Linked DNA regions of Homo sapiens: region 2 is linked to region 1. The links come from fine-mapping of genetic effects on gene expression. A gene starts in region 1. The other region holds a variant in brackets. All regions are shown on one strand. Distances are from middle to middle. Region 1 holds the start of ACOX2 (acyl-CoA oxidase 2). Region 2 overlaps FAM107A (family with sequence similarity 107 member A).

Region 1 (2,901 bases):
GACAGGGTCTTGCTATGTTGTCCAGGCTGGTCTCAAACTCCTGGCCTCAAGTGATCCTCAAGCCTCAACCTCCCAAAGCAATGGAATTATAGGCGTGAGCCATCACGCCTGGCTCAGTATAACAGTTTCTAAGTTCTATGAGTCTTCCTAGCAAATCACTGGACCTGAGGTTGATCTTGGAGAACCTCTGACACACTCAAATAAGTTCTGAAGATTAGCTGACAATATTGCAGCAGTGTTAATGGCTTGGTTTCATAATTGTACCTTAGAAGAAGCTGAGTGAAGGATATACAAGAACTTTTTGCAGCTTTCTGAAATTCTAAAGTTATTTCAAAATAAAAAGTTAAACACAAAGAACAAGGAGACAAGTGTGATCATTGTTAGTGCTGGGTGTTAGGTACATGCAGGTTCATTATATTTTTCTCTCCACTTTTGTACAAGTTTGAAATATTTTGTAATTTAAAAAGCCTTTTTAAGCTAGAGAATTCAAGATTTCAGTGCAACAAATCAAAATGATCACATCCAAAACATACAGAACAGGGTCAGCTTCAAAGCGGATGAGAAAACAATTTAAACATGGAGAGTTTATTAAAAAGCCTTGCTCCAAGGGCCCCTGAGCAAGGCTTTCTTCACTGGGCACTTCCTGCAATCCAAGCCTTTCTCTATGGCAGAGAGGAACTAAGTCATTGCCCATGGTCAGTGATAGCATAAATCCTTGGCGGAGATGAGTCCAGGTGTAAGTAAGAACTTTCACCTCCAAACAGTGGGGCCAAGACCACCTTCCCTGAAACCACTGCCCACAGCAATGAGGACTGCCAGGAGTCTGAGCCCCACAGCTCCAGAAGGACCTACTAGGTGATAAGTTGCAAAGCTTGGGCCACAGGTCCTGCCTCTTCCTACAGACACAAGCTAGACACTACCTTGGGGATATGATGGGGTGCTGTGAGGCTCCTTACTGAGCAAATACCTTGCATTACAGGGGAGGCCAAGGCCCAGAAAGGAGTACACCTGCTCAGAGTCAACATAGCTCAGAAGTCCTGCCAGAACAGGAGCCTTGATCTCCTACTGGCCCCTTGATTTCTTTCCCAGTCTTACACAAATGTGTTACGTAATCTACTTATTGTGCAAACCCAAACAAAGTGACATCCCTCCCTGAGCCTGTTTCCTTACCTGCAAAATGGGGAGCCGCATCTGACTTTCCAAGGTGGTTATGCAGGGAGGGAACCTCTAAGCCTCTCATTCCTCTCACTAAGACCCAGCTCTCATCTGGATCCCACACACTACAGATGGATGCTTCACAAATATTTTTCCAGGGAATGTCAGGGGATGCTAAGCATAAGACAAGCCATATTTTAGAGCAGAAACATGGGGAGAGAGGAAAAACGTACACCTTACAGAGCAATCCTTTCACATGAGGACCATCTCAGGGGAGCCTATTAAGCTCGTGTGATATTAACAGCTTGAGTGCCTGAAGGGCACACAGTGAAAGATCAGGGAAGACCAGGATATCACTTTGGAAACACTGCTGGGGTACACAGCTTTTTGGTACAAGTAGTGTCAAAGGAATCCCTGGCTTTGAGATGTAAGGGCTCCAACCTCCCAGAAGTCCTCCCAGGGCAGCCCCAGCGACAGGCACAAAGGTCACACCCATGCAGGAAGAGAGGGAGGAAGGAGAGGAGCTCCATAAGCCCAGACAAGGGCTTGAGAGCAGACAAGGGCTTGAGAGCAGACAAGGGCTTGAGAGCAGACAAGGGCTTGAGAGCTGGCCAAGCAGTTTCTCTCAGCTTCTGTGTTCCAGCCCCTATGTGGGAGGAGAGAAGGGCAGGACCACAAGCCTGCCAGAGGCTGCGGCCTACAGCCGGGGAGAGGCCAGCCCGGCCTACAGTGCGGACACAGGACAGAGGGGAGCCAGGTGAGCCAGGTTTTTGGGCAGGGAGGGACTGGGAGACCCCAGAGGAGAGGGCTGCCCCCATGATGACCCTGTCCGCAGCTCCGAGAGACCCTGAGCAAGGCTTTCTTCACTGGGCACCTCCTGCAAATCAGGCCCTGCACTAAGTGTTAGGGTCACGGCATGACAGTGACAAAGATCCCGGCCCTCTTGCAGTTTCTGTGTTAGTAGCAGGGAGATGGAAGTAAACAAAAACATATGAAATGAGTAAATGATCTCAAATGTCAGAAGGGGATAAGTGAAAAGAGAAAAAGGAGAGCAGAGTGAGGAGGACAGGGAATGCCGGGGGAGGGGGCTTGGGGTTTTAAAGAGGGTGGCCTCTTTAAGGTTAAATGAGGTTCAATGCAAAAAGCCCTAGTGACATTTGAAGAAAGGGTGTTCTGGGCAGATGGAGATGCCCTAGCAAATGCTGGCAGTGGCAGGGAGGCCTGGAGCATTCAGAACAGCAAGGAGGCAGTGGCAGCAGAGCAAGGAAAAGAGGTAAGGCAGGACGAGAGGAGCCGCACTAGGGGCACTTGCAGGACTCCGGGGGGCAGAGGATGGGGCCCCTTGCCAGCACCCCCACAGCCCTGCTGGGGGTATTGGTTTGAAAGCCTCATATGAATCATTTGCTACATGTGGTTGCATGACCCTTATAAAGTCTCCTCCCTTTCCAAGGCCCACATCCTCTCCATAAAATGGTAATAACAGCAGTGCATCTGTCAGGTTGAGGTCAGGAAGGAAGGGGATCAAAAGCATGGCAGCCTGCCGGAGAGATTTACAACATACCTGCTGCAAGCTAGGAAATGCAGAGCTGGCCTCCCAGGCCTTGTGGGAGGAACATGTAAGCAAATAAGAACTTGTCCCTAACCCTAGAGCACCCAGGGAACGAGGGAGCTGAACTTTGTTCAGAGAGAACAGCAGGGGCAAAGGGTAGGAAGAGAATGAGTGGAGGCCAGGGATGAGGGCAGTAA
Region 2 (2,901 bases), 29 kb before region 1:
TGTCTTGGACTGGTATCTTCAGCCCTAGGAGCCTCAGTTTCTGTCCCTGTAAAATGGGACAGTAATGGGTCCACCTCCAAGGCTACAGGGAGGATTGCACAAGATAATAATGGGGGTTGGTGTCACCGCAGGAAGCAGCCCTGAGGCTGGGGGAAGCGGGAAGGTGATGGTCTCCTGACAGCTCCCCACTTCCCACCCCAGGGGCCTTGGTGTGGACAGCAAGCCAGAGCTGCAGCGTGTCCTAGAGCACCGCCGGCGGAACCAGCTCATCAAGAAGAAGAAGGAGGAGCTGGAAGCCAAGCGGCTGCAGTGCCCCTTTGAGCAGGAGCTGCTGAGACGGCAGCAGAGGCTGAACCAGGTGGGTGATGGGCACCCAGCAGGGACCACGCATCCTCCAGGGCTGTCCTCCAGGGAGGAGCTCTGCTGTGGCCACAGCTAGTAAGAGGGAAGAGGATCAGCAGACAGAGCACTGGACTAAGAGTCCACTCCTGGCCTGAGTCCTCCCTCTGCCATTCACTTTGCTAGGTCCTTAGGGCGAGTGGCTTCCCTGAACCTCAGCTTCCTCACTGGCCCAGTGTACTGCATGCTGATTCTGATTTCATTCTTATAACTGTCTTGTGAGCCAGGTGGCATTCCCATTTTAGAGATGGGGAAGCTGAGGCCCAGAGGGGGTGAGTGATTTGAACCAGGCTGCACAAGGAGAACTCAGTCTCATGCTCTGTGCCCCAGCTACCAGGCTGATAGCAAAACTCATCCCCAGGTTGGTTCTGTTTCCCCACTGAGTGGGCCCTTGGTCCAAACTCCACAGGTTTTCAGAGTAGGAATCCCCCTAGCTCCACCCACTTCACTCTCTGCTTCTCCCTCCTTCAGCTGGAAAAACCACCAGAGAAGGAAGAGGATCACGCCCCCGAGTTTATTAAAGTCAGGGAAAACCTGCGGAGAATTGCCACACTGACCAGCGAAGAGAGAGAGCTGTAGGGCCAGCTGCCGGGCTCAGGCCACTGCCCACCCTGGCCTGGACAGCCTCCTTCAGCCCTTCTGTACCTGGCAGCCCTGGGCCCCAGGCCCTGGGACGTCTGTGATGTTCCCACCTGCTTCTGTAGAAATGTGTCACCCCAGAGGGCCTGGCTCTCCCTGGGAGGCTGGGGCCCCTAAGCTCCTAGGTTTTCCTTCCAAGCACCCAGCCCTCCTGCTCCAAGAGGGATAACCTGCACCCCTCCCTGCAAGGGGTTCAGAGCCCAGCACAGGAGCTTTCTCTGGCAGAATTGAGGAGGAAGAGGTGGCCCTCTGACTTGACAAGCCTTCTGTTCTGCCCAGGCCTTCCCACCAGGAATCTCCGAGGCTCCCCAGGGCCCCGCTTCTCCGTACACCCCAGCTCCTAGGTCTCAGAGAACTCCCC[C/A]ACCTGTGGTTTTACCTGCAGCCAGCAGAGCTTAGCTTCAAGGACACCTGCCTTCAAAGCCACTGAGGGGAGGAAGGGCAGGGCAGACTGCAGATGGCCTTGTTGCTGGCATCCCGGCCAGGTGGGCGGGGACTAACAAAGACAGCTGTTTAGGGTCTTCTCCCCTCACCCATGCTTTCATCATCCCCTCCGCACAGCCTCCCCGTCCAGGCCTTCTAACCACACCTACCCAGGGCTGCCGCATTCCTGCACTCAGAAGTCTGCAGCGGTGCCTCACAAACTTGATTGTGCATAAAAATCACTGGGGATCTTGTTAATACAGCTTCTAACTCAATAGATCTGGGAGATCCTGCATTTCTAACAAGCTCCCAGGTAAGGCGGAGGCTGCTGGTGTGAGGACCATGCTGTGAGCAGCAGGGCGAGAGTGCCCAGGGCTGATATATATTGGAAATATCACCCCTGAAGCCATCGCTGGCCCCCACCTCCTGTGGACTGATGCCCCAGGGATTCCCACCCCACTTCTGCAACCCCAGGTATCCTTCATTATCCACCCCATCCCAGACTCCCACCCCAGGGATTGCCCGTGAAGACTTTGGCCTAGCAAATTGTGTTGGTTATGTGAGTGTTGTTTTAATCAGAGATGTACATGATTGCCAATCTGCATTTCTTACCAGTGTGACCACACTGTTACGATGCAATTCTAGCCAAAAAAAAAAAAAAAAAAAAAAAAATTTTTTTTTTTTACTTTTTCCTAGTCTTATGGAAAGCAAATATACAATGATTTTCAGTAGGCTTCTGGAATAGAAACAGTGGTTTGAAGACCCCACTGCCACCTTTATGGACTGGCCCCTTTGAGTCTGAATCCCCGGCCTCTGTCACCTGAGACCCAACCCCTAGCTGGGCCAACTCCAGTGAATTCACCCATTTTTCTTCTTCAGAAGGCCTTTCCTGTGTGAGACCCACATATTTTAACCTTTTGCTCCTATCCCATTTTTAAAGAATTAGAGAATAAACCAGGCCTGTTTCTTTTCCCCTGAAATCCCTGCCTCTGGCTTCCTAAACCCATCATCTAAGGTGACAGAGCAGTGCTGGAATAGCATCTCCTTTCACTTTCCCAAAACTGCCACAGATAGCTGCCACTGGCATGCTCTTTGATTCCTGGAAGCAAACGTGGGACTGTCGGAGGAAAGGGATTGTTCTGGTCTTACTCATAACTGGGTGGTTTGAGGGTGACTGAAGTCGTGCTTTTCCTGTGTGTGCTGCCAGCACAGGGCTGTAAATGCAGATATTGCGCCTGTGTGCGTGTGTATAAGTCAAGCTCCAAGAGGCTCCTGAATGTGACTGGCGTGCTGAGAATGTGTTTACGCTGTTTAATGTCTGCCAGGTGAGGGTTACACTGAAGATGCACAATCCCTAAAATAAAGATCACCACTTCCCCAAAGAAGCAGCCCTCGGGTCCATGTGTTGTTCAGACATGTGAAGAGAAGCAAGACAGAGGGTCT

The links.
Region 2: its variant is fine-mapped to the expression of ACOX2 in pancreas (GTEx, PIP above 0.99).

Annotation. Positions count from the first base shown.
Region 1 is chr3:58,536,130-58,539,030 of GRCh38, reverse strand. ACOX2 (acyl-CoA oxidase 2) reads left to right here and starts at 1,841. Exons shown (of 15, transcript NM_003500.4): 1 at 1,841-1,912. It overlaps LOC107984079 (a long non-coding RNA gene), which reads right to left. Exons shown (of 3, transcript XR_001740724.2): 1 at 2,717-2,901.
Region 2 is chr3:58,564,665-58,567,565 of GRCh38, reverse strand. FAM107A (family with sequence similarity 107 member A) reads left to right here. Exons shown (of 4, transcript NM_001076778.3): 3 at 202-358; 4 at 871-2,901. The coding sequence ends at 978. All of the region lies in intron 1 of LOC107984079 (a long non-coding RNA gene), which reads right to left. Among named protein-coding and RNA genes, the nearest start is that of FAM107A, 11 kb to the left of the region's middle. RefSeq lists enhancers at 821-1,344, 1,345-1,869. The variant C/A (reference allele first, on the strand shown) is at 1,400.